4 linked regions of the Homo sapiens genome follow. The protein of the gene in region 1 purifies or fractionates together with the protein of each later gene. This does not show direct contact. Each region holds a gene or a part of one and is shown on either strand. Other genes may lie near its edges.

Region 1 (7,024 bases):
ACCACCACAACACAACCTTAGGTCTTTAGATAGTGTTGCTCTTTTTGTTACTTAAAATCCCTGACCAGAGAGTACGTCTTTGGATTGAATCTAGGACCCTGCATTGTAAATTCAGTGTTATTCTAATAAGAACATCAACGGGGGTTAGTTGTTTATAGAACCAAACAGATTCTAAAGTTCACAGGGGAGTAACTGCAAGAACAGCCATAAGATTTTTTTTAAAAGAACAATGGGGAGAAGACAAAGTTGTCTTAAGTAGCTCTCAAAGGTTTTATTAAAACATGATAGTAGGCCAGGTGTAGGGGCTCACACCTATAATCCCAGCACTTTGGGAGGCCAAGGCGGGCAGATCACTTGAGCCCAGGAGTTCAAGATCAGCCTGGGAAACATGGCAAAACCCCATCTCTACTAAAAATAGAAAAAATTAGCTGGGCATGGGACACATGCAGTCCCAGCTAGCTAGCTATTCAGGAGGCTGAGGTGGGAGGATCGCTTGAACCCGGGAAGTGGAGGTTGCAGTGAGCCGAGATCGTGCCACTGCACTGCCGCCTGGGTGACAAAGTTAGCCCCTGTCTCAAAAACAAAAACAAAACATGAGAGTAATTAAAACTGTGCTACTGGCACAGGAATAGACAAATAGATCACTAGGACAGAAAACAGTCCAGAAAAAGACTAACATATATGGAAATTTAGTTTATAATAAGGTAACATTCTAAGTCAATGATAAATTACTAATGGAAAAATGGCCTCTGTCTGGGAAACAAAATGAGAACTCTAGCTTTAAAAGTATACAGAAAAGTAATGCTAAAAAATAAATTTTGGCTGGGTGCAGTGGCTCATGCCTGTAATCCCAGCACTTTGGGAGGCTGAGGTGGGTGGATCACCTGAGGTCAGGAGTTCGAGGCCAGCCTGGCCAACATGGTGAAACCCTGTCTCTACTAAAAATACATAAATTAGCCGGCTGTGGTGGTGCACGCCTGTAATCCCAGCTACTCGGGAGGCTGAGGCAGGAGAATCTCTTGACCCCGGGAAGTTGAGGTTGCAGTGAGCAGAGATTGTGCCACTGCACTCTAGCCTGGGCAACAAAGCGAGACTCTGTCTCAAATATATAAATAAATAAATAAATAAATTTTAAGAAAATATAATGGCTGGGCACAGTGGCTCATGCCCTTAGTAATCCCAGCACCTTTGGAGGCTGAAGCAGGAGGACTGCTTGGGCCCAAGGAGTCCAGCCTGGGCAACATAGTGAGACCCTGTCTCTACACAAAATAAATTTTTTTTAAAAAAATGGCTGGGCACGGTGGCTCACGCCTGCAATCCCAGCACTTTGGGAGGCCGAGACGGGTGGGTCACTTGAGGTCAGGAGTTCGAGACCATCCTGGCCAACATGGTGAAACCCATCTCTACTAAAAATACAAAAATTGGCCAGGCATGGTGGCGGGCGCCTGTAATCTCAAGCTATTCAGGAGGCTGAGGCATGAGAATTGCTTGAAACCAGGAGGTGGAGGTTGCAGCAAGCCAAGATCACACCACTGCACTCCAGCCAGGGCAACAGAGCAAGACTGTGTCTCAACAACAACAACAACAACAACAACAAATTAGCCAGGCAGGGTGGCAAGTGCCTGTAGTCCCAGCTACTTGGGAGGCTGAGGCAGGAGGATCGCTTGAACCCAGGAGGGTCAAGGCTGCAGTGGGCCTTGATAGCACTGCCACTGTACTCCAGCCTGGGCAACAGAACAAAACCCTGTCTTTAAAAAACAAAAAACAAACAAAAAAAGCCCCATAATTTTAAGATAGGAAAGTCTGGCCTACTTAGTAGGCAAAATAAAAACCCTACATGCTGTAAAGGAATAACATGAATTACTTAGGCCTTGAATTTAAAGCTTTTGTATGATGAGATACCATAAATAAGCAAAAGACAAACGATAGGCTGGGATTAGTAAAAAAATCTGCAATGTGCATTACATATGTATAACAGACAAAAGAGCTCTTATATACTAATAGTTACAAAATGCCAACACAATTGAAAAATGGCCAGAGGCTCTACGTAAGCAAGTCATGAGAGAATCATATATAGCCAATTATCACAAAGATGTTGAACCCACCCAGACCTAAACTAGCAAAGATGCTAGTAAGATGAAAATGCAAATTAAGATGAATTATATTTTTAGTAGCAAAACCAAAAAAGATTATCATCAGGTTGTAAGGAGTTAATACAATTACTTGTGACACAGTAATTTTACTTTTAGGAATCTATTCTACATAAATACACATGTGCAAAGAAATATATGTGCAAGGATGTATACTAGAACATTATTGGGATTAACATGAAATTGGAAATTACCTAAATGTTAGAGGAATGGTTATATTAAGGTATATCTATACTGTGGAACACCTGTGATATTATGACTTGTAAGTTCCTCTGGCTTCCTGGAACAGCTCCTAAAATCCTTAAATCTCCAAAGTGGTAAGTATCTTTTGGATGCTAATGATGACTGATGGCTGGGGGATCCTGGATAGCCTCAACAGGGGAGCTGGTTGCCAGGGGTATCAACCATGAGATCAGTCCCATCCCCCAACCTTGGGGAAGGGAACGGGGTACTGAAGGTTGAGTTGATCACCAGTGACCAATGATGTAATCAATCATGCCTGTGTGATGAAACCTGCAAAAGAACCCAAAAGGACTAGCTTTGGAGAGCTTCTGGATAGCTGAACACACAGAGGTATGGGACCTGGATAGAGGTGCACCTAGGGAGGGCAGGGAAGCTCTGAACCCCTCTCCCCCTCCCCATGTCTTGCCCTATGCACTTCTTCCATCTGCCTCTTCATGTTTCCTTTGTAATAAACCAGTAAGTGGAGGTGTTTCCCTGAGATCTGTGAGCCGCCCCAAAGACGTCCCAAGCAAATTAATCAAACCCAAAGAGGAAGTCATGGCAACCTCTTTATACCCAGCTGGTCAGAATCACACATCACAACCTGGGGCTTACAACTGGCATCTGAAGGGGGGCAGTCTTGTGGAACTAAGCCCTTAGCCTGTGGGATCTGACGCTGTGTCCAGGTGGAAAGTGTCAGAACTGAACTGAATTAGAGGACACCCAGCTGGTGTCCACTGGAGAATTAGTTATTGGTGGTGAAAAATCCCCACACACGTATTGGTGCCCAAACGTGAAGTACTCCAGAGTGTCAGAGTAGGAAAAACCAAAGTATTTTTCCTATGCTTTGGTTTTTCCTATCTCCTTTAGAACTATGCAGCCATAAAAAGAATAGGTAAGCTATACATAATTATGACATGTCAGTTAAAAATAATATTAAGGGCTGGGCATGGTGGCTGATGCCTGTAATCCCAGAACTTTGGGAAGCCAAGGTGGAAGGACTGCTTGACCCCAGGAGTTTGAGACCAGCCTGGGCCAACCTGGCCTCTACAAAAAATAAATTAAAAAAATTAGCTGGGCATGGTGACACACACCTTAGTCCTAGCTACTCAGGAGGCTGAGGTGAGAGGATCACTTGAGTCTTGGGAGATTGAGGTGAGAGGATCACTTGAGTCTTGGGAGATTGAGGCTGCAGTGAGCCATGACTGAGCCACTGCATTCCAGCCTGGGTGTCAAGGTGAGACCTTGTCTCAAAAATAAGTAATAAAAAATAAAATAGAATTAAAATAACTAAGGGGACAAAAAAGAATATATGTAGTGATAAGAAAAGATCTTAGGTCTATGGTTCCCAAACTGCACTGAGGTCCCTGGGTTGGTGAGCAAACTCACAGAGGCACCACAGAATAATATAAATTTTCAAGAGACTTCATGTGTAATATTACCTTGAGGTTACTTCATGCTTTTAACATTAGATTGCAAAACATTCAATGAAGTCAATCTTTCCAAAGCTGGGTTTTGGTGGTGCTAGATTTGGAAAGTTTTTCCCCTCCAAACCTCATGTTAAAATTTAATCCCCTATGTTGGAGGTGTGGCCTAATAGGAAGTGTTTGGGCCATGAGGACAGATCCTTCATGAACAGATTAATGCCCTCTCTGGAGGGGAAGGGAATGAGTTCTCATTATTCATTCCCTGGAGACCTGGTTGTTAAAAAGAGCCTGACACCCCCCTGCTGTTCCTCTTGCTTCTTTTCTTGATATGTGATCTCTGCACATGCTTTGCCTTGCGAAGCTGCTGAGTGGAAGCAGCCTGAGGACCTCACCAGAAGCCCAGCTGATGGCAGCACCATGCTTCTTGTACAGCCTACACGGTTCTTGCAGAACCATGAGCTAAATAAATAACCTCTTTTCTTTATAAAGTAACCAGCCCAGGTATTACTTTATAAGCAACACAAAATGGCTTAACACAGGTGGTTACTATGATAAAAAGCAAATACTGTACAAAACTAACACTGAACAAGAAATGAGGATGCCAATTTCCAGTCTGATGCCAAGATATGAGGTATTGTGTAGTGCTCTATAGGCACTCACATCCCATTAGTATTTCTTAAATTAGTAATTTAAGAACAAAATTGCTGGGCGCGGTGGCTCACCCCTGTAATCCCAGCACTTTGGGAGGCCAAGGCAGGGGGCTCACGAGGTCAGGGGATCAAGACCATCCTGGCTAACACAGTGAAACCTCGTCTCTACTAAACATACAAAAAATTAGCTGGGCGTGGTGGTGGGTGCCTGTAGTCCCAGCTACTCGGGAGGCTGAGGCAGGAGAATGGCATGAACCCGGGAGGTGGAGCTTGCAGCGAGCCGAGATTGTGCCACTGCACTTCAGCCTGGGCGACAGAGTGAGACTCTGTCTCAAAATAAATAAATAAATAAAAAATAAAAATAAAAATCTTTATATTTGTCTTTTGGCCTAAGTATAGGGGCATTAAAAAAATTTACTGGCACACTAAGGATACTGTAAACCAAGAAAGTTTGGGAAACCTGTGTCTTAAGTGAAAAATGCAATGTAGAACAATTAACAATCTGAGTTGATAAACAATTATGATTATCTAGTGTACATTTACATTAATACATAGAATTTGGATTAAAAATGTCAACTCAGTTGACAATGACTACCTCTAGGTAGAATAAGAATTGAAGAACAGAGAAGGGATACTTTCAGTTCATTGCTCTCTATAGTTCTGTATTAAATCCTTTTCTACCAGGAAGTATCTGCAGTACAACTGCAAATTTGGTTTTTAATTTTATATTGCATCTGTTCCTGCAGAGAAACCCATAACAAAACAATGGCAAAAGAAAAAGAAAAACATTACAACACCGTTTTCTATGCAGGTATACATAATAAAGTTCAAAAAAGTTTGGAACTTCCTGGCAGCCAAAGGGGAAAGAAATCTGTTAAACTACAGAATTTTTATTACAGGTCAAGCATCCCTAATCCAAAATCCAAAATGCTCCAAAATCCAAAACTTTTTGAGTGCCAACATGATACTTAAAGAAAATGCTTGGCCAGGCACAGTGGTTCACACCTGTAATCCTAGCACTTTGGGAGGCCAAGGCAGGAGGACAACTTGAGGCCAAGAGTTCAAGACCAACCTAGCCAACATAGCAAGATCCCCGTGTCTCTCTCTCTCTCTCTCTATATATATATACATTTATAAATATTTATATAAAATATATACAAGTATTATATATATATTTCCATATATGCAAAGGAAATGCTCCCAAGAGCATTTTGGATTTTGGATTGAGGATGCTCAACCAGTAAGTATAATGCAAATGTTCAAAATTCCAAAAAAATCTGAAATCTGAAACACTTTTGGTTCTAAGCATTTTGGATAAGGATATTTCTATATCAGAAAGGAATGGGAATGCCAATTCAGTGGAAATGTAAACTAAGAGGTGGGAGGGGCAACTAATATTTCTTTACTCTGCAGGTGCTTTGCTTGCTTCATGACTTTGACTTTCAACAATCCTTCAAGGGAGGCATTAGTTCATCATTACACCTGAAGAAGTCGGAGGTTCAAAGACCTCACAACAAGCAAGTGGAAAAGTAAATGTTCAAATTAGGTCTTCTTTTCCAAAAATCCTGTTACATAACAGTATAATGCAATGTAGCTAAGCCAAGAACTGTGGTCATCTGCATTGAGATTTGTTTCTGTTAAGATAATTAAAATGACTAATGGGCCAGGTGCAGTGGCTCACGCCTGTAATCCCAGCATTTTGGGAGGCCGAGACGTGATCCACCTGATCCACCTGAGGTCAGGAGTTCGAGACCAGCTGGGCCAACGTGGAAAAACCCCATCTCTACTAAAAATACAAAAATTAACCAAGCAAGGTGGCGCATGCCTGTAATCCCAGCTACTCGGGAGGCTGAGGCAGGAGAATCGCTTGAACCCAGGAGGCGGAGGTTGCAGTGAGCCAAGATCATGCCACTGCACTCCAGCCTGGGTGATGGAGTGACATTCCATCTCAATAAATAAATAAAATAAAATAAAATAAAACGACTGATTTAACTTGAAAAAATACTAACAATAATTCATTTTAAATTTTATAATTTTTGACTAAAAAATATACAAAAGGAAGTCAAAGTCAGTCTCTCCACCTCTGCTCTCATTCCCACTCATTAGAGATAACTTGTTTTCTCATTCCAGAAATTTTCTATGCATTTATATACACATAATACTTTTGTTTTACCTAAATGTGATCATACTGCTTTGCCATATTTCCCCCCACATAATAGATTTTGGACTTATTCAGCCAGAGAAAATCTCATTAGACCTCACTGATATACAGTTAAGAGGGCTTTTATTTTGCTTTTACTTTTTTTTTTTTTTTTCGAGAGGGAGTTTTGCTCGTTTCCCAGGCTGGAGTGCAATGGCGCGATCTCGGCTCACCACAACCTCCGCCTTCCGGGTTCAAGCGATTCTCCTGCCTCAGCCTCCCAAGAAGCTGGGACTACAGATGGGTGCCACACGCCCAGCTAGTTTTTATTTTTATTTTTTGAGATGAAGTCTCACTCTGTCGCCCAGACTGGAGTGCAGTGGTGCAATCTCGGCTCACTGCAACCTCTGCCTCCCAGGTTCAAGTGATTCTCCT
Region 2 (7,434 bases), on another chromosome or scaffold:
CCAGTTGCTCTTCATGAACTAATTAAAAAATTGTTATTTTATTAAATTTTGACCCTTGAGTACACATGTTTAATATTCTTTGTGACAAAATCAAAGTATTCATAAGGCACTTTTGCTGCATCTTGAAATGCAATGGCTGCCTTAAGGAAAAGCATTTGTGTGACTGAGTTGCAAGCTGAACTAGACGTTGTTTTTAAGAAGCATCACCATTTTACTTGAAAGAATGACTAACAAACCGATTATTCAGACATGGCTATCTGACAAACATTTTCTCAAAACATGAGCCCGGTTGTGCCTATCAATAAAATGAGAGATTTCAAGTGAAAATTGAGATTTTGGAAAACTTATATTCTCTACTGTGAACCTAACAGCTTTCCAGTACTTACAGACTGATTAATCAGTGGTAATACTATGATTTTTTTGGTATTGTACAATAAAATGCTCCAACATTTGCAAGATCTGCAAACTCAGCTAATGAATACCTTCCAAATAATGCAAGATGTTACCAATCGTTCATGAGTAAAAGATCCAAAGTACAAAACAGAACAGAGTTTTAAGGTAAGAGCACCCCAAATTTAATCATATGGTTTAAGAATCCATTTGGCAACTTTTTTTTTTTTTTTTTTTTTTTTTTTTGAGATAAAGTCTCACTCTGTCACCCAGGCTAGAGTGTAGTGGCACAATCTCAGCTCACTGCAACCTCTGCCTCCCGGGTTCAAGTGATTCTCTGCCTCAGCCTCCTGAGTAGCTGGGATTACAGGCACCCACCACCATGCCTGGCTAATTTTTGTATTTTTAGTAGAGATGGGGTTTCACCATGTTGGCCAGGCTGGGCTCGAACTCCTGATCTCTTGATACACCTGCCTCGGCCTCCTAAAGTGCTGGGATTACAGGTGTGAGCCACTGTGCCCGGCCCGCAACTAACTTTTAAGAAGGGTTAGTTTATTACTTGTTGAGCTGTGTTATATTAAAGCACAACACCCTCAATGATCTAAAAATGCTATTAAGTACTCGTCTTAATCATGTATCTGTCAGAGGCTGTATTTTCTTCAAATACTTCAACCAAAACAAAATAGCACAAGAGATTAAAAGCAGAAACACCTATGACAATTCATCTGTCTTCTATTAATATTTTGCCAGACATTAAAGAGATCTGTAAATTGAAAACAATGCTACTCTTCCTTTTTTGGGGTAATACTTTTCACAAAAATCTTACTTATCCTTACATGTAATAGATTTTTTGTAAGTGAATTAATAAATTTTATTTTTAGTGTGATAAATATTGATAGGTATAACCTACTGAAACAAAAGCTCTTTGGAATCCTTAATCATTTCTAAGAGTCTAAAAGAGGTCCAATTCCCAAAGAGTTTGAGAACCACTATTCTAGAAGGCAAGAGAAAAGGAACTCCTGACTTCAACTTTCATCTACAAAGTTTAACCAGAAAACAAATATAAAAGGTCATGAAAACTTTAGACAAATAGAAGGTCACAAGAAAGACCAAGAAATCACGAAGATCATAAACCTGGAGGACATTATGTTACATGAAATAAGACAGGCACAGAGAGACAAACACCACATGATCTCACATATGTAATCTAAAAAAGTGGAAATCAGAAATCACAGAAGCAGAGAGTCGAGTAGTGGTTAGAAGGGACTGAGTGAGGTTGAGGGTAGTTGGGAAGATACTGGTCAAAGGGCACACATTTTAATTAGACAAGAGGAATTCTATTCTACAACACGGTGACTAAAATTAATAACAATGCATTGCATACTTGAAAATTAGTAAGAGTAGATAGTAAGTGTTCTCACCACAAAAAAAAGTAAGTACCTAAGGTAAAGCAAATGTTAATTAGCTCCATTTAGTCACTGTAGACACATTTCAAACATCATGTTGTACACTATAAGTATATACATTTTTTACTTCTCAATAAATTAATAAAAATCACTTTAATGACAATAAAAAATAATAGGAAGATTTTAGCTCTCAAGACTAACCAAAAACCGTATTCCTCATTAAGCTACAATTCCAACTCAGAGCAGCACATTTTATTTAAACAACTTTATGCTGCCTTACACCTGTATTTAAGAACTCAAAGGTACTTCAAAATGACGACACTATATCTAACACCATTACTGGTACCATCTACAGTGTCATGAATCTCTATCATGCTTCTTTGTGTTGTATATATTACTATTAGTTTTTGCAAATAACTGGTGAAAAAAGAAAATAAACAAAGGGGAATGTCCCAAAACCTAGATTCCTGTACTACTCTGGCTAAATGTTTTCAAGAAAGATAAGTTGGTCAAGTGTCTAAAAGGTACATATAACTTCTGCCCACTTAATAGTATTATAAATTATTGAACTTTGTTGTGACAGTTTAGGTTCTTCATAAACTTTGATAACTGTGTTAGTTATAACTGATGGAGTCAACTGATGGTGAAAACGAAGAGCCTCCCAACTGTACACGATTGTTTTATTTCCCCCAAGGAGTCCAAAAGGCAGATGCAGATAGCGGGCAAGTGCTCGAGCTATTTTCTCGCTCACTACCTTCTGGATAAGTCTTTCTGGATAAGACTCAGCATGGCTTGTGGTCGGCAGCAAGTTATAGAACCCCCAGAGAAGGATCCAGAGACCCCGCGGCCCCTTCCCGCCCTGTGCCGTCACCTCCCCGCTTCCCCGCGTCTCCCTGGACACCTGAGCCTTCGTCCGCGCGGGGAGCCGCTTTGGTGGCACGCCGGGAGCTCGCCCAGACCCGGCCCCGGCCACGAGGGCCCCGAACCCGGTGGGGCAGTCCCGCCACCTGCGCGCGGCCTCCTCCAGAGGGCGGCTCTTCCTCCGCAGAACCCGGGACCGGAAGTTCCCTCGGCGCCCCAGGCTCAGCAGGCGACTCCTCGGCGCCATCGCTGTCGCTGGAATCAGCCGCGCGCTGCCGAAAAGTCCTTTTCGGCCTGTGAGCCATGGCCGAGGCCCGAGCGCCCGGCGCCCTAGAACCCGCTGAACCGCAAGCCGCAGCTTCAGTGCCCGCCCCCTAGGGCGCGCTCCCGCCGCGCCTGGCCGCCGAGTGCGCGCGCCCGTCCCGCCTGCCTTCTGCTCACCGCTACTCTGTCTGCGCCTGCGTGCTTTGGCTCCCTGGATCTGGTAGGCCGAGTTCTGTTCTGGGGCCTGAGTTTGCAAAGCATTCCCTTTGCCAGGTTAGGTTGCGTGGACTGACACCTTAGAGATTTTCACGGCCTATCCGGTCTGAGTCCCACGGAGAGCAGAACTCACGTGCTGTCCTTGTGCAAACCCCATCCAGAAATCAAGCGTTATGCTTTCCGTCCTGGACTGGAGCCAGATCCGTTGTCTTTTACTTTCTGGAGAGAGTGCCCCCTCCAACCAAGATTTAAAACAAACGAAACCCCAGCAGTGTGAGGCTCGGGGTAGGAGGAGATGCCTTTGAGAACAAAACCATAAAGTCTGTACATAAACAATGCATACAGACTAGCAAAAATCAAATGACTTCCCCCAGGCAGCAGGGCTTCAAGAGAGCCTGGTTAAATGTTTTCACCCTTAAAGAAACTATCTAAAAACAAAAAGCTATTGTCTGACGCAAATTTGTTCTATATTCATCAAGCTCTGTCTACTACTGTATCTGTATGGTAGAAATACTATATAATGTTGAGCTACTGCACACCTGTTATCAACTCCATGTTTAGTGGCGTCATATTGAGAGGTGACAGCGGGCCAGCTGGAGTTCCGGGTGGGCATGGGCTTGGCGGGCCTGCACTCGGAGCAGCCGGCCGGCCCTGCCAGCCCCGGGCAGTGAGGGACTTGGCACCCGGGCCAGCGGCTACAGAGGGTGTACTGGGTCCCCTAGCAGTGCCGGCCCACCGGCGCTGTGCTCGATTTCTCGCCGGGCCTTAGCTGCCTTCCCGCGGTGCAGGGCTCGGGACCTGCAGCCCGCCATGCCTGAGCCTCCCATCCACTCCATGGGCTCCTGTGCTGCCCGAGCATCCCCGACGAGCACCACCCCCTGCTCCACGGCGCCCAGTCCCATCGACCACCCAAGGGCTGAGGAGTACGAGCGCACGGCGCCGGACTGGCAGGCAGCTCCACCTGCAGCCCCGGTGCGGGATCCACTAGGTGAAGCCAGTTGGGCTCCTGAGTCTGGTGGGGACATAGAGAGTCTTTATGTCTAGCTCAGGGATTGTAAATACACCAATCAGCACTCTGTATCTGGCTCAAGGTTTGTAAACACACCAATCAGCACCCTGTGTTTAGCTCAAGGTTTATGAGTGCACCAATCGACACTCTGTATCTAGCTGCTCTGGTGGGGCCTTGGAGAACCTTTATGTCTAGCTCAGGGATTGTAAAAACACCAATCGGCACTCTGTATCTAGCTCAAGGTTTGTAAACCCACCAATCAGCACCCTGTGTTTAGCTCAAGGTTTGTGAGTGCACCAATAGACATTCTATCTAGCTGCTCTGGTGAGGCCTTGGAGAACCTGTGTGTGGAAACTCTGTATCTAACTAATCTGATGGGGATGTGGAGAACTTTTGTATCTAGCTCAGGGATTGTAAACGCACCAATCACGGCCCTGTCAAAACAGGCCGCTGGGCTCTACCAATCAGCAGGATGTGGGTGGGGCCAGATAAGAGAATAAAAGCAGGCTGCCCCAGCCAGCAGTGGCAACCCGCTCCGGTCCCCTTCCACAGTGTGGAAGCTTTGTTCTTTCGCTCTTTGCAATAAATCTTGCTACTGCTGACTCTTTGGGTCCACGTGGCTTTTATGAGCTGTAACACTCACCGTGAAGATCTGCAGCTTCATTCCTGAGCCCAGCGAGACCACAAACCCACCAGAAGGAAGAAACTCCAAACACATCTGAACATCAGAAGGGGCAGACCCCAGACGCGCCACCTTAAGAGCTGTAACGCTCACCGCGAGGGTCCGCAGCTTCATTCTTGAAATCAGTGAGACCAAGAACCCACCAATTCCGGACACAATATTGGCACCTTGAAATCAGCCATAAAGGGACTACTTATACCATATAAATTGGAAGACCTTAGAAGTCCAGGTGTTTCTCCCAGATATCCAGTCATTAAACATTTACCATTGTATCACTGACTATATGTCACCAAAGGAATCGAGAAGAGGCAAAGTTTCTCTGATTGACCTAGCCCCGGAATTTTTTTTTCTTGGCTTTGTCTTTTTTTCTTGGCTTTTCTCAATAAACTGAAACTCCTTGATGTAAATTTGGGAAATTATATGATACAGTATTATCAGTTATTCACAAGTTATTAATGTCTTATTATAAAGAGAGGCTTCTCTTTTTAAATCCAGGTAAAATTAGAGAACTACTTGTTTTTTTGTGTGTTTCTTTTGGAAAATTGGCAAATGGTGTGAAAAAGATATTTCTGGAGAATAGAGATACTTGTGGCATCTGAAAGAACAGCTTCCTATCATGGACCAAGTGCTCCTTGTAGTTAGAATAAACTTTAAAGATTGGAGATGGAGAAGTGGGTTCCGTTCGGTCCAGTGCTTTTCAGATGCCATCTTTCCATGCAGAATTCCCAAGTTCTGCCATGGATACTGCTCTGTACTCCCTTAGCAGAGGAGGACATCTTTCCAAATTACACTATAAAGTAGTTAATGCTAAACCAAACAGGAGACTATAATTTTTAGTTTAGTTAATTTTATGGACAGAGTCTCGCTCTGCCACCCAGTGCGATGGTGCAAATACAGCTCACTTCAGCCTTGACCTACTGGGCTTAGTGATCCTCCCACCTTAGCCTCCTGAGGATCTGGGACTACACGCGCATACCCCAATGCCCAGCTAAGACTAGCATTTTGAAACAGTGAGGAGAATGAGGAAGATGATCGTGATTGTAATTGGAGAGAAATTCAGTGTTCTGTTATGCACTCTTAAGGAAACATATTAATATATCGTACAATTCAATCAGTGTTTATTATACACCTACTAGCACAGGCACCATGCTAAGCCCTAGACTAATGCTTATCAAATCTAATGTTCTTCAAAGCACATGGAAATAGTGTGGACATATAGATACTGATTGAGCTGCTATGTGTAGGAACCAAGAGTCTTCATTTCTAGCAAGCTCCCAGGTGAAGGCGAGGATACTTGTCTGAGGATCACTCTAAATAGCAAGGTCCTAGAGCAGATACTAAGTATTAATCACCCTTAAGAAGGCTGGGCGCAGTGGCTCACGCCAGTAATCCCAGCACTTTGGGAGGCCGAGGTGGGCAGATCACGAGGTCAGGAGTTCAAGACCAGCATGACCAACATGGTGAAACCCCATCTCTACTAAAAATACAAAAATTAGCCGGGCGTGGTGGTGCATGCCTGTAATCCCAGCTACTTGGGAGGCTGAAGCAGAAGAATCACTTGAACCCAGGAGGCGGAGGTTGCAGTGAGCCGAGACCGCACCACTGTACTCCAGCCTGGTGACAGAGTGAGACTCCATCTCCAAAAAAAAAAAAGAAGTCTTAAAAAATAGTCTAAATAACTTAATCATTGATGAACTTCATATCAGATTGTAACAGCATGTAAATGTTAGGTACCTCAAAATTTAGAAACCTAAATAGCCCCCCAAAAGGAAAACTAATAAGAATCTATTCAAAGTGAGTAAGGTTATTTAAGTGTAGAAGTTGTTCACCATAAGGGGATATCTGTCTGCACCTCCTCAAAAAGGGTTCTCTGCCAGCTTCCAAAGTCATTTTAGGTGTTTGTTGCAATTGGAAAGGGGGTCAGCAGGACAGAATTCACTCCCAGTGTTGCTTAAAAGGCAGCAGTTTATTTAAGGACAATCTAAGTGTGATGTTGGTGTTCTAGAAGGCTGTTCTTTCCCTTCAAAAGTCACTAACTCACAAACGATGTTAAACCAAAATGTGAAAACGCTAGGCAGAGTTTACTGTTCTCGGCTGAGTTCAGAGCCATCTGCTAATGTGGACTCATTGTTTACTTTCCCATTTTAAAAGACACTGCCTCCCCAGACAGAGCCCTTCTTTTACTCATTTTGATATCCTATACCTAGTTTAGTGTTTAGTGCACAACTGACATGAACACAATGAACTAAATGGTTGGATGAGGCAATTCTGAAACATCTGTGTTCACTCACGAAAATAAAACTGGAAAACAAGTCACTCTAACTTGTTAAATGCAAACATGTTAAGAGATAGGTGATATATGATGGAGATAGAAAAAACTCTGCTATTTAAAACAGAAATCAAACATTTGTTCTAAGGGAAAGAAGTGAGAAAAATTATTTTCTCTGGGTGTTGCCTTGGTGGGAGAGGATGAAATAAAGATAACTTATTTAATAAAGGGGGAGGAATCCTGAGTTTTCTCCTCTGTCCCCAGGGAAAGCAGAGCGATGACTCTGAGGGATAGTTGCCAGATTTAGAAAAAATATAGAATACCTGGTAAAACTTGA
Region 3 (7,547 bases), on another chromosome or scaffold:
ACCTAGAAAACTAGGGAACTAAAAGTGCAATATGGTTTGGGTAATGCAGTTGGTTAGCTGTCTCCCCATCCTCCCAACTCACTATTCCAGGGAGGGGCTGAAAACAGAAGTGGCTCCCCTGAAGTCTAGTTAGCATGTCATGACAGAGTCCACATGAAGGGCTGTGGGCTGCAACTTTCTAGTGCACAGTCCTCTCTTTTTGGCGATGATAATCTGAAGGAAAGAAGAAGAAAAGGAGGAACAGAGCAGGTTATCTTCACGCTTGAGCTCCTGATTCCCTATCCCCAACTTGTAGGGCCTCTAGTCATCAGTATTTAAAGAGTTCTTACTTAGGGCCCTGTCAGGAAAGTGAAAAAAGAAAGTGGCACTTACTGTAGGGAAAGAAGCGCACACGCATGCTGATTTCACGAGCTGTCTTCAGGATCTCAACAGCCTGGAAGGAACACAGCAGCTTGTACAAATGAAGAGATATGACCCAAGACAGAATCATAATAGGGGGAAAGGGATTTGCCACTCCAACCTGTGTGTCACTAATAGCTGCTTCCCTCCTGTACTTTCCCAGGAGAGGTGCTTACTTTCTCTCTCTCTTTTTGTTTGTTTGTTTGTTTGTTTTGAGACAGGGTCTTGCTGCGTTGCCTGGGCTGGTCTTAAATTCCTGGGCTCAAGTGATCCTCCCGCCTCAGCCTCCTAAGTAGCTGGGATTACAGGCGTGTACCACAGTGCCCAGCAAAATGCTTTCTTATTAAGTTACAGATTAGGCTACTCCTGTCCAATCTGTCCTATTTGAGATGGCTTCTTGCAGCACCACAGCCCAAGTACTGTGCTCACCTTGCTGTGCTCAATATCTTGGAAATCCACATCATTCACAGCTAGAACTTGGTCCCCTTCCTGCAGTCCTGCTCTATGTGCATCAGAGTCAGGAATCACCTGTTGGTAAAGAGAGAATACATGTGATTGGGATGCGATAATTTCAGAAGACTGTCAGTGAAATTCGGTGCTATTCAAATGTATGGTGCTATTGTTTTTCTGTGACAATGTATGCAGACAGATGGCCTGCCAAATGAAAAGTTTTAAGTGGGAAAGGGGGTGTCTCCATTATACCCCTTCTATGAATCCAGAGTCATCCTCTCAGCCCTTGGGACATTAGGGTTCTGCAATCTGTTAATTTAACAAAGGGAAGTAACGATCCATATTGCCTACTGGGCATAAATACCTTGGAGATGAAGATGCCTAGCTGGGAGGCCTTTCCTCCTCGGATGTTAAATCCCAACTGTAAGACAAGAGCACAGAATGGGGGCTCAATGGAGACCACAAACACAAGAACAACTAGTAGCATCATCGTACAATAGCTCAGCTTGTGTGTCCCTGAGAGGAAAGTCAGAAGTTGCAGAAGTGTTATCTCAGCTTTTCTGTCCACAAGAAGGAAAGTTTCCTCACATCTGCACCTGCTTTCCAATCCATCCCCCCAACACTGCCAATTTGTGGTATGGATGAATCTAGCCTGAAATAAGGTTTCATAAGTTCACCTGAGCTCCAGGAGGCTTCTTCAGTGTGATGGTTCGGGGCAGAAACTGGGTCAACTCATTGTTGTAGTCCGGGTGGTGTACCCTCTGCAAGACACAGCAACCCCAGAAATTTTACCAGTCTTACTTCACACCTACCTTCATCTGAAACACTAATGAATTACCCTGAAGTCAGGAAAAGGAAAGGTCATAGACTTAATTTAAGTAGAACAGATAACACAGACTAAATGAGTAGATGGATAGCACTGGGGCAGCCCAGTAGCTCCCCATTTCTTCACCTTTTTTTTTTTTTTTTGAGATGGAGTTTTGCTCTTGTTGCCCAGGCTGGAGTGCAATGGCTCAATCTCAGCTCACCGCAACCTCTGCCTCCCAGGTTCAAGCAATTCTCCCGCCTCAGCCTCCCTAGTAGCTGGGATTACAGGCATGTGCCACCACGCCCGGCTAATTTTGTATTTTTAGTAGAGACGCGGTTTCTCCATGTTGGTCAGGCTGGTCTCGAACTCCCAACCTCAGGTGATCCGCCTGTTTCGGCCTCCCAAAGTGCTGGGATTACAGGCATGAGCCACCGCGCTGAACCTCTTAACAGTATGGAAATGAAGGCTCCAAATTTCCAGAATTAACCGGTGTGAACAGACCCTAGCAGGAGGCTTCCATAAAGAAGTTCCCAATGGGTCCTGTTGCTCAGAATCCAGCTTCTGGGTCCTCTGGCTACAAGTGCTAAGATTCACTCTCCGTTTCGCCTTCTAACCCTGCTATCCTACCTTTCATGCATCATCTCATGCCCACGGGGAAAAAAATCTCCTACTCAGGAATACAGATGGTTCCCACCTCATGAGGAGGAATCCATGCTGGAGGATTCTCATAGGCAGGCAAGAAAACCACCGGGTAGTCATCATAAGGAATCCGGCTGTCCATCTCGGGCAAGGCCCTGGAAGAGTGAATCAGAACAGACAAAAAGTGGTTCAAAAGGGAGAGCAGCCCAGCAAGTTTCAGACAGCAGCTCCAACCCATTCCAAGGCAGTCAGTCTACAGGCCCAGCCCATATCTAGGTGTTAAGGTTGGAGGAGAGAAGGAAGACAGAAGAAAACTCTTAACTTAGCTAAACATCTTCTGGATGCCAAGCAACCTGTCAGGTACTCTAGAAAGAGGACCTCATTTTTCACAATCCTGCAAAACAGATGTTACCGTCTCAAACCTGGAGAAGAGGAAATCAGGGTCGAGTCTAAAAAGATCTACTTTCGAAGCCCAAGGGAGTGTTAACTATCCGCAGGGACTCGGGGCAAGGCACCGCCCCACATTTCCTAGATGTGATTAGTAATGGTAGGGTCCTTAGATCGACCCTTCCTTCACCTGACCAGCCACCTCCCACGTCCCCGCCCCACATTCTGCCTGAGACCCGCACTCTCAGCCGCATAAACGCCGCACCACCTCACCAGTGGGCAGTCCACAGCGACCTCAGACTCCGCTCACTGACAATTCAGTCTGGGAACCGGAAGCGGATGCTCCGCAGGGTCGAAAAGAGGCCGGGCCAGGGTGCAACGAGCTGACCCTCCCCTTCCCACCGCGCCGGCCTGCGCGCGCCGACGTGCGCGCTCCGCCCTCGGGCAGTCCGCACTGCAATTGGTTGGCGTCTCCGGGACGGATTTGAAACTTGGCGGTTAAAGCTCCGGCTGGGACAGGGCGGCGGGAGGCCCAGGGAGAACGGGGAAGGGACATTTAGTTTGGTGAGTTACGGGGGCACACCTTAGCTCAGAACCTGTTTTTACCCAGTACCCTAGGGCTTTGGTTCTTTGTCGCCGTCCCCGTTGGAGTTTTTTCTTTGCCTTTCAGAAGCCCGTGCACTCTCTTTAGAGTGCAGGGCTGACGGGCGGTCCAGCCCTGGCCAAGTCATGGAGCGTGAATCTCCCAAGTCAGTGTTCCCGCTGAGGAGGGTCGGAACCGGGGAGGACGCCCTCCCACCCCTGCTGACCTACTAACATTCATCAGCGAGCCTTCTTTTTCCCCCTCGCAGAGACGGTGCTGAGATAGGATCATGAAGGAAGAGGTGAAGGGAATTCCCGTAAGAGTGGCGCTGCGTTGTCGCCCTCTGGTCCCCAAAGAGATTAGCGAGGGCTGCCAGATGTGCCTTTCCTTCGTGCCCGGAGAGCCTCAGGTGCGTAGCAGAGTCCAGAGCCTGTGTCTGAACAGCTGGGGCCAAATGGTAACGAGGGGTGTGGTCTTGCCTTTCATTTTTAACCTTACGCCTTGTCCCGTGCCTTCTCTAGGTGGTGGTTGGTACAGATAAATCCTTCACCTACGATTTTGTATTTGATCCCTCTACTGAACAGGAAGAAGTCTTCAATACAGCAGTAGCGCCACTCATAAAAGGTGTATTTAAAGGTAAGGCGATTTGATTCCTCGAACGTAACATATATATTCCTTGAGCATATACTATGTGCCAAGCACTGTGCTTGGGCACTGCAAATACAGGAATCGATGAATCATGATTCCTGCCTTCAAGAAGCCCTTAGCCTAATAACATTTGTCAACGTCTCTGTACCCTTGAAGCTAGTTTTATTCTGTATTTGCTTTATGTGGTTCTGTTCATCTTTGACTTGTATATGTTTGTTTATCCTGGAACTTCATTAGATTATAAACTCTGTGGTGGTTGCTGATGGTGATAAGTGTGCCAACCTACTTGAGGCCCAGGCACTGCAAAGCTTGTTGAGGGATTCAGGTGATAAATAATATAGCTTCGAGGCCCTGAAGGAGTTCAAAGTCCAGGGGATAGGAATGGAGATAGATGACTACATAAATAATTTTGAATATATAAAAATTTTTAAATTTTTTGTACCTATCTTTTAGAAGAAAAATTTTTCAAGTTAAAAATATACAACAGAGTCAGTCCTATGGAAGTAGTAGCTCTGCTCTCATACAAAGTGGTATGAAAAACAAAAGGATGGCTCTAACTCTGCTTGGGGAATTTGGGGTGAATTTCACAGAGTGGGAAAACTTTGAGATGGGTCTTGAATAATGAGTATACTTCTTTTAGGTGGAGAAGGGGAGTGCCTAAAGCCTCTGAATACTATCACCAGTTAATAATCTTTACTGGGGAAGCTAAGTCTTTAATGCTGTTGAGGACCATAGCAGGGTTCTAAAGAAGGGAGCAGTGCCTGAGAGATGTCTAATTATTATTCTAATACAGTGGTTATTCAAGATTCAAAACAGAGGTTCGTTTAAAAGAAGTAGAATCATGGCATGCTAGTGCCTTAAAGTTGAAAGAGACATTTGTATATCATCTAGTTTGTTTTTCATCCAAAGAAAAATGCGTTCTAACAATATCTGTTAGGTGAACTGCCAGTGTCTAAAATTTTTTTGACAGGGAACTCACTGACTCACAGGTAGTCCAGTTGAGATTTGGGTTTTGGACAAGTCTAATTATGTTATAAAGATCTTTATAATGAGATGAAATTTGCTTCCTGGTAATTTCTACCCAGTGATGTTAGTTCATTCCTTTAGAAGCCTTCTTCTAGGCAACAGCTATTCACATATTTTTTCACGTTTTTTTGTTTAATGATATGGCTCAAGGAACACTGAAATTTTTGTTTCAAAATTTTAAGATATTAATGCAATAATTTCAAACGTATAGAATGTTGCAAGAACAGCATAAAAAACATTTTTTCCCTGAACCATTTGAGATGAATCATTGGCCTGATAACCCCCCATACTTTAGTGTATATTTCCTACAAAAAAGGACTTTCTTCTAAGTTACCACAATACAACCATCAAAACAATAAAATTTGCACTGCTACATTACTACCATCTATTCCTGAAACCCCATTCAAGTTTCACCAATTGTCCCAGTAAATATTTTATGGCAAAAAGATCTAGTTCAAAATCACGTTTTATTTAGTTTTGCTGTCTCTTTAGTCTCCATTCTAAAACAGTTCTTTAGTCTTTTTTTGACTTTTATGAGTTTGACACTTTGAAGATTACAGGCCAGTTATTTTGTAAACCTTTTCTCAATATTGTTTTGTCTGGCATTTACTTATGATTAGATTCAGGTTGTGTATCTTTTAGCAGGAATATCACAGAAGTGGTGCTGTTTTCTTCTCACTGAAGCCTATTGGGCAGCACATGATTTTGATTTATTCTATTACTACTGATGTTCATTTTGATCATTTGATTAAGGTGTTAATCTGCTGGGCTTCTCCACTATAATCTTTTTCCTTTTTACATACAGTATTTGGAAAACCGTTAAGTGTTTCTACCTAATTCTCTTCAATTATCCCCGCCTTTCCTTTAGCCATTCCTGAAACAATATGCTTTTCAGACCCTGCACTATCTGGTCAGATTCCTCAGGCTATACCTCCACAGCTTAGTAAGAGCACCACAGTTCTACTTTTACATTCTTAACTTGGGAAACTGATAGAATTAAATTATGTTCTTTAAAGGCAACATAAAGTAGAAAGTGATTCCAATATACATGTGTTTGCTTAACATTACCCTTGGTTGCAAAAACAAAGTCAATATTTTTTATAGTCAGCTCAACAGCACCCTCTTGTACTCTGAACTCCTGGTACCACAGAGCCCTAAGTATTTTGTAAAAACTACTAAAACCTCATTTCCCAAGTTATTGCTATCTGCACATATCTGTGGTATTGCAGAAAATTATGGAATGTTATTCTCTTGCCCCATAGTCATGCCAGCTGATACCAGCGGTCTATTACAGTGAAAATCTCAATTTAGCATCTTCTTATGATCCTTCATTTAGACCAACAAGTTTTTTCAAAACTTCAAAGTTTTCATTTAGATTAAAACGTTGTTTCAAAGTTTAAAGGGTTTTTTCCTTCAGACTGCAAAATTATCTTGGTAAATAGCAGATAACAGCTTTGACATAAATATGATGATCATTTAACAGAGAAAGCTTGCTTTGTGTTCCTTGACAACATGTCTGCCACACTAATAAGGAACAGACTTCCCTAAGGTCATTATTTTTTTCACCTTGAAGTAAATTTGCATTTGTAGTTCCTTTTAGGTGCCATGCTTATAGTTTTAGAAGCTACTACTGTACAATTAAGTAGCAAGTTATAATTATGCATCAGTTAACGACAGGGATACCTTCTGAGAAGTGCATTATTAGGCGGTTTTGTCATTGTATGAACATGGTGGAGTGCATGTATACAAACCTAGATAGTATAGCCTCCTATACACCTGAGCCTACTGCTCCTAGGCTACAAACCTGCAAAGCATGTTACTGTACTGAATACTGTAGGCGGTTGTAACATCATGGAAAATATTTGTGATCTAAGTATAGAAAAGGTGAGGTAAAAATACAGTATGAAAGGTAAAAACTGATACACCCGTATAGGGCAATTACCGTGAATGGAGCTTGCAGGACTGGAAGTTGCTCTGAGTGAGTCAGTGATGAGTGGTGAGTGAATGTAAGGGCCTAAAACATTATTGTATACTACTGTAGACTTTATAAACACTGGATACTTAGCTTACACTAAATTTATTAAACTTTGTGTCTTTCTTCAATCATAAATTAACCTTCGCTTATTATACGTTTTTTACTTTATAAACTTTAATTTTTTAAATCTTTTTGACTTTTTTGTAATAATACTTAGCTTAAAACACAAATACATTGCACAGCGGAATAAACATTTTCACTCTGCATCTTTATTCTGTAAGCTTTTTTCTTTTTAAAAAAATATATTTTTTTACTTTTTAAACTTTTTGTTAAAAACTAAGACACAAACATACACATTAGCCTAGGCCCACCCAGGGCCAGGATCTTCAATATCACTGTCTTCCACCTCCACGTCTTGTCCTACTGGAAAGTCTTCAGGGACAATAACATCCATAGAGCTGTCATCTCCTATGACAACAATACTTTCTTCTGGAATACCTCCTGAAGGACCTGCCTGAGGCTGTTTTACAGTTAACTTTATTTATCATAAGTAGAAGGAGTATACTCTTAAAAATGATAAAAAGTATGGTATAGTATACTAAACACATAAACTAGTAACAATCATTTATTAT
Region 4 (7,024 bases), on another chromosome or scaffold:
AGCAGGGTCAGAGTTATCTGCTTGGAGGTAACTTTGGGCTTCTGGACATGACTGGAGGATGGGGAGGAAAGGCAACTTTATCTGACCATGAACAGGGTAAAGCACCCCCCACCTGTTAGCAATAGTTTTTAAAGTTGTGGTTTAGGACCTCTTTACACACTCAAAAATTACTGAGGACTCCAAAGAGTTCTTGTTTAAGGGGGATTATAATTATCAGCATTTGCCATATTAGAAATTAAAACTTTAAAAATACATAATTAATTTAAAAATAAAAACAATAAACCCATTACATATAAACCAGAAATGTCTTTATTTAAAATAACTACATTTCTGTGAGGTCAGTTTTATAGATCTCTTCCTATTGAGAATATATAATAATTCTCAATAGGAAGGAGGGGTTTAAGTAGAGATATTTCATAGTGACTTCATAGGAAAGCCACTGCCTGGTCATGTGTTTCACTATTAAAAGACATATGTAGCTCATTTCAGAGTGTTAATCATTGAGAAATAATTCTAGTACCTAATTTCTTAGAGATTGAAAAATAAAGCCATACACTAAAAGGACAAAAACTTACAATTGATACGATGATGATGATAATAGTGAGCTTGAGGTTCTTCATACACATGGCTCGAGCAAGATTTCTGCTGGTAGTTTTGAAGGTGACAGACTAGAAAAGAGGCGAGAATTGTTTAACCCCTGGCACTGACTACATGAATGATTTGCAGTAACAACCTGAGAACATTTTACTTCCATTAATTCCATTTAAGTCCAATGACCTCTCTTTACAAGTAGAGACTGGCCATTCATACTCAATAGTTGCCAAAAGCAAGACTCTGCCAGGCCTATCATAAGCAGTATGAGCCCAATGAAAACGCTTCCCTCTTTTTTCTTCTCCACTGCAGCAATGCACATGATGTTGAGCACCAGAAGTGGTTCTTCCCGCTAGTGGAAAAGAATTTTCCTCTCTATACTTCCAATAAGAAAGGCTCTTTTAAAGCCAGCTGACTGCAAGCACATTCGCCTATTCTGCCCCGTATAATTCCGGGGCTTTGAGCCATAAAAACCTGTTTGATTTCTGTAGGAAGATATGTATTTACTTTTGTGAGGGCCAAAACCCATAGAACTTCATTCCTTCTGCTATCCATTTTCTTTTGCATCATCAATTTCTCAGTATCTACTGAACAATTCCCACCAGGACACAAGGAGTTTAAAACAAAATGGCAAACAACCAACCAACAAAACTCCCTAATAATCCAGCAATCCACTCTGGTATGGTCCCACAGATGTATGCAAATTCACCAAAAGACATATAAAAAAATGTTTTGGACAGCACTACTTTTCATACCTTAAACTGGAAACCACCCAAATGCCCATCAACTGTGCAATGCATAAATTACAGGAGAGTCATAACATGGAATACAATACAGTAATGACAATTCACAATCTACTACTACATTTATACAATTTACCACAGATGAATCTCACAAACATCATTTTGAGCAATAGAAACTTGACATAAACAGAATACCTGCTATATTTTATTATTTATCTTGAGACAGGGTCTTGCTCTGTCGCCCAAGCTGGAGTGCAGTGGCACAATTACGACTCACTGCAGCTTTGACCTCCTGGGCTCAAACGATCCTCCCACCTCAGCCTCCTGAGTAGCTGGGACTATAGGTGTGTGCCACCACTCTCGGCCCCTGCTATGTTTTATTAATCTATGTGGAGAAATCAGGACAGTGGCCACCTTTGGAGAAGAGTAGTGACTAAAAGAAGGGAGAAGGGAGCTTCTGGGGTACTGTTCGTGCTCTAGTTCTTAATCTGGGTGTTGGTTCTACATGGTATGTTTACTTTGTGAAAACACAACAAGTTGTATGCTTACAGTTGATGCACTTTATGTATATTATACTTCACATATTGGTTTTAAAAAATCCACTCCCTTAACCATAGATTCATCTCCAACCACATACTCCACAAAGTCTCTGCAGTAGAACAACTGACAGGGGCACCAGTCTTTGGGTTTCACTTCATGAAGACTGCACAGGATGCCACCTGGAGGCACATACCAAAACTGATTACATCTAGAGCTAAATATATATGTTGAATAGAATATATGCATTGACTAGAACTTTTGAGAAGAAACAGCAGTTAAAGTGAGGAGACAAAAAAAGCAATGGGGACAAACAGTCCTTAATGGAACAAAGTTAATATGGGAAACAAGATAGAATAACAGTAATAAAAAAATTTCTAATAAGTATCCTCAGATACAAGACATAATTGAACTAATTTTAAACAAAGTCATCAGAGGACATAAAAAATTAGATAACATGACAACATTCCAAAAACTATATTTTAATAAAATGGCATAATTTTTTAAAAGCAGAACATAAATGAGCAAAAGCAGCTTCTGCAGTAACAATTCAAAAAATTTGTTCTGAAAACAGCAAAATGTCTAGGTTGTAAATCATGAAAGAAGATGTAAGATACACGGAAAACTGATCAAGCAAATCCAGGATCAATTTATACGATCAACAGATATTTAACATGTGCTTATTATGTGCCTGGTACTGATTTACACACCTATTAGCAGTCACAGGAGAGAATACAGCCAAAAGAGAAGGATCAATAATCAAGGGACTAATTGAAGAAAATATCCCCCAAATAAGACAGACTTGAATCTTCAGACTAAAAGGACCTACCCACCATGTGGCAAGAATATTGAAAAAAGGAAAATGTTACACTTTTAGTAACATTTCAGACCTCCAAGCTTTTGTTTCTACTCTAATTTTATTTTTTTCTGCCTTGAAGTATAATTGGCAAATAAAAATGGTATATATTCAAGGTATACAATGTGATATTCTGATAAATGTACACATTGTGAAATTATTACCACAATCAAGCTAAGTAAAATATCCATCACCTCACATAGTTACTTTTTTGGGTATGTGGTGAGAATGCTTAAGATCTATTCTTATAGCATATTTCAAATATTCAATACATTATTATTAACTATAGTTGCCATGCTGTATGTCCGGTATCCAGAACTTATTCATCTTACAACTGTAAGTTCATACACTTTGACCAACATCTCTCCAGGTCTCCCACCCACTGTCAACCACTGTTTTACTCTCTGCTTTTATGAACTGAACATTTTTTTTAGATTCCATATATAAGTGAAATCATACAGTATTTATCTATCTGTGTCTAGTATATTTCACTTAATATAATGTCTTCTAGTTTCATCCACATTTTAGAATTTTTTTTTCTATTCTGTGAAAAATGCCATTGGAATTTCAATAGGGATTGTGTTGAATCTGTGTATTGCTTCAGGCAGTATGAACATTTTAATAATATTGATTCTTCCAATCCATAAACATAAGGTATCTTTCCATTGATTTGTGTCTTCTTGAATTTCTTTCATCAATGTTTTATAATTTTCAGTGTGCACATTATTACATCCTTGGTTAAATTTATTCCTAACTATTGTACTCTTTTTGATGCTATCATAAATGGGATTTTTAAAAAATTTCCTTTGATTCCTGTTCCAAGATGGCCAAATAGGAACAGCTCCAGTCTACAGCCCCCAGCGTGAGCAACGCACAAGACGGATGATTTCTGCATTTCCAACTGAGATACCGGCTTCATCTCACTGGGGCTTGTTGGACAGTGGGTGCAGCCCACCGAGCGTGAGCCGAAGCAGGGCGAGACATCGCCTCACCCGGGAAGCACAAGGGGTCAGGGAATTCCCTTTCCTAGCCAAGGGAAGCTGTGACAGATGGCACCTGGAAAATCGGATCACTCCCACCCTAATACTGCGCTTTTCCAACGGTCTTAGCAAACAGCACACCAGGAGATTATATCCCGCGCCTGGCTCAGAGGGTCCCACACCCACGGAGCCTCACTCATTGCTAGCACAGCAGTCTGAGATTGAACTGCAAGGTGGCAGCGAGGCTGGAGGAGAGGCGCCCGCCATTGCTGAGGCTTGAGTAGGTAAACAAAGCTGCCGGGAAGCTCGAACTGGGTGGAGCCCACCACAGCTCAAGGAGGCCTGCCTGCCTCTGTAGACTCCACCTCTGGGGGCAGGGCATAGCTGAACAAAAGGCAGCAGAAACCTCTGCAAACTTAAATGTCCCTGTCTGACAGCTTTGAAGAGAGTAGTGGTTCTCCCAGGACAGAGTTTGAGATCTGAGAACAGACAGACTGCCTCCTCAAGTGGGTCCCTGACCCCCAAGCAGCCTAACTGGGAGGTACCCCCCAGTAGAGGCAGACTGACACCTCACACGGCGGGTACCCCTCTGAGACAAAACCTCCAGAGGAACGATCAGAGAGCAACATTTGGTGTTCAGCAATATTCACTGTTCTGCAGCCTCCGCTGCTGATACCCAGGCAAACAGGGTCTGGAGTGGCCCTCCGACAAACTCCAACAGACCTGCAGCTGAGGGTCCTGACTGTTAGAAGGAAAACTAACAAACAGAAAGGACATCCACACAAAAACCCCATCTGTATGTCACCATCATCAAAGACCAAAGGTAGATAAAACCACAAAGATAGGGAAAAAAACAGCAGAAAAACTGAAAATTCTAAAAATCAGAGCGCCTCTCCTCCTCCAAAGGAACGCAGCTCCTCACCAGCAACAGAACAAAGGTAGACAGAGAATGACTTTGACGAGTTGAGAAAAGAAGGCTTCAGATGATCAAACTTCTCTGAGCTAAAGGAGGAAGTTTGAACCCAGCACAAAGAAGCTAAAAACCTTGAAAAAAAGATTAGATGAATGGCTAACTAGAATAACCAATGTAGACAAGTCCTTAAATGACCTGATGGAGCTGAAAACCATGGCACGAGAACTAAGTGACGAATGCACAAACTTCAGTAGCCGATTCGAACAACTGGAAGAAAGGGTATCCGTGATTGAAGACCAAATGAATGAAATGAAGCGAGAAGAGAAGTTTAGAGAAAAAAGAATAAAAAGAAACGAAAAAAGCCTCCAAGAAATATGGGACTATGTGAAAAGACCAAATCTACGTCTGATTGGTGTACCTGAAAGTGATGGGGAGAATGGAACCAAGTTGGAAAACACTCTGCAGGATATTAGCCAGGAGAACTTCCCCAACCTAGCAAGGCAGGCCAACATTCAAATTCAGGAAATACAGAGAACGCCACAAAGATACTCCTCGAGAAGAGCAACTCCGAGACACATAATTGTCAGATCACCAAAGTTGAAATGAAGGAAAAAATGTTAAGGGCAGCCAGAGAGAAAGGTCGGGTTACCCACAAAGGGAAGCCCATCAGACTAACAGCTGATCTCTCGGCAGAAACTCTACAAGCCAGAAGAGAGTGGGGGCCAATATCCAAAATTCTTAAAGAAAAGAATTTTCAACCCAGAATTTCATATCCAGCCAAACTAAGCTTCATAGGTGAAGGAAAAATAAAATCCTTTACAGACAAGCAAATGCTGAGAGATTTTGTCACCACCAGGCCTGCCTTACAAGAGCTCCTGAAGGAAGCACTAAACATGGAAAGGAACAACACATACCAGCCACTGGAAAAACATGCCAAATTGTAAAGACCATCAAGGCTAGGAAGAAACTGCATCAACTAACGAGCAAAATAACCAGCTAGCATCATAATGACAGGATCAAATTCACACATAACAGTATCAACCTTAAATGTAAATGGGCTAAATGCTCCAATTAAAAGACACAGACTGGCAAATTAGATAAAGAGTAAAGACCCATCAGTGTGCTGTATTCAGGAAATCCATCTCATGTGCAGAGACACACATAGGCTCAAAATAAAGGGATGCAGGAAGATCTACCAAGCAAATGGAAAACAAAAAAAGGCAGGGGTTGCAATCCTAGTCTCTGATAAAACAGACTTTAAACTAGCAAGGATCAAAAGAGACAAAGAAGGCCATTACATAATGGTAAAGGGATCAATTCAACAAGAAGAGCTAACTATCCTAAATATTTATGCACCCAATACAGGAGGACCCAGATTCATAAAGCAAGTCCTTAGAGACCTACAAAGAGACTTAGACTCCCATACAATAATAAAGGGAGACTTTAACACCCCACTGTCAACATTAGACAGATCAATGAGACAGAAAGTTAACAAGGATATCCAGGAATTGAACTCAGCTCTGCACCAAGCGGACCTAACAGACATCTACAGAACTCTCCACCCCAAATCAACAGAATATACATTCTTCTCAGCACCACATCGCACTTATTCCAAAATTGACCACATAGTTGGAAGTAAAGCACTCCTCAGCAAATGTAAAAGAACAGAAATTATAACAAACTGTCTCTCAGACCACAGTGAAATCAAATTAGAACTCAAGATTAAGAAACTCACTCAAAACTGCTCAGCTACATGGAGACTGAACAACCTGCTCCTGAATGACTACTGGGTACATAACGAAATGAATGCAGAAATAAACATGTTCTTTGAAACCAATGAGAACAAAGACACAACATACCAGAATCTCTGGGACACATTTAAAGCAGTGTGTAGAGGGAAATTTATAGCACTAAATGCCCACAAAAGGAAGCAGGAAAGATATAAAATTGACACCCTAACATCACAATTAAAAGAACTAGAGGAACAAGAGCAAACACATTCAAAAGCTAGCAGAAGGCAAGAAATAACTCAGAGCAGAACTGAACGAGATAGAGACACAAAAAACCCTTCAAGAAATCAATGAATCCAGGAGCTGGTTTTTTGAAAAGATCAACAAAATTGATAGACTGCTAGCAAGACTAATAAAGAAGAAAAGAGAGAAGAATCAAATAGACGCAATAAAAAATGATAAAAGGGGATATCACCACCGATCCCACAGAAATACAAACTACCATCAGAGAATACTACAAACACCTCTACACAAATAAACTAGAAAATCTAGAAGAAATGGATAAATTCCTTGACACATACACCCTCCCAAGACTAAACCAGGAAGAAGTTGAATCTCTGAATAGACCAATAACAGGCTCTGAAATTGAGGCAATAATTAATAGCTTACCAACC

The links.
Region 2: the proteins of GINM1 (region 1) and GCFC2 purify together in Homo sapiens (affinity purification with mass spectrometry; 3 studies listed by BioGRID and IntAct, with this or other methods). This does not show direct contact.
Region 3: the proteins of GINM1 (region 1) and PDZD11 purify together in Homo sapiens (affinity purification with mass spectrometry; 3 studies listed by BioGRID and IntAct, with this or other methods). This does not show direct contact.
Region 4: the proteins of GINM1 (region 1) and VAMP7 purify together in Homo sapiens (affinity purification with mass spectrometry; 3 studies listed by BioGRID and IntAct, with this or other methods). This does not show direct contact.

Annotation. Positions count from the first base shown.
Region 1 is NC_000006.12:149,583,369-149,590,392, reverse strand, and holds part of GINM1 (glycoprotein integral membrane protein 1 precursor), read right to left. Parts: intron 1-7,024.
Region 2 is NC_000002.12:75,707,894-75,715,327, forward strand, and holds the start of GCFC2 (intron Large complex component GCFC2), read right to left. Parts: upstream 3,023-7,434; 5' UTR 2,963-3,022; coding exon 2,698-2,962; exon of another isoform or gene 2,551-2,697; intron 1-2,550.
Region 3 is NC_000023.11:70,286,904-70,294,450, forward strand, and holds the start of PDZD11 (PDZ domain-containing protein 11), read right to left. Parts: upstream 3,025-7,547; 5' UTR 2,957-3,024; exon of another isoform or gene 2,926-2,956; intron 2,719-2,925; exon of another isoform or gene 2,535-2,718; coding exon of another isoform or gene 2,439-2,534; coding exon 2,352-2,438; intron 1,611-2,351; coding exon 1,527-1,610; intron 1,271-1,526; coding exon 1,214-1,270; intron 928-1,213; coding exon 829-927; intron 434-828; coding exon 373-433; intron 214-372; coding exon 179-213; 3' UTR 1-178. Other genes in the region: chromosome-associated kinesin KIF4A, read left to right, coding at 3,556-3,675, 3,788-3,902. UniProt on the Homo sapiens protein: Mediates docking of ADAM10 to zonula adherens by interacting with PLEKHA7 which is required for PLEKHA7 to interact with the ADAM10-binding protein TSPAN33.
Region 4 is NC_000023.11:155,933,345-155,940,368, reverse strand, and holds part of VAMP7 (vesicle-associated membrane protein 7), read right to left. Parts: intron 669-7,024; coding exon 576-668; intron 1-575. UniProt on the Homo sapiens protein: Involved in the targeting and/or fusion of transport vesicles to their target membrane during transport of proteins from the early endosome to the lysosome. Required for heterotypic fusion of late endosomes with lysosomes and homotypic lysosomal fusion.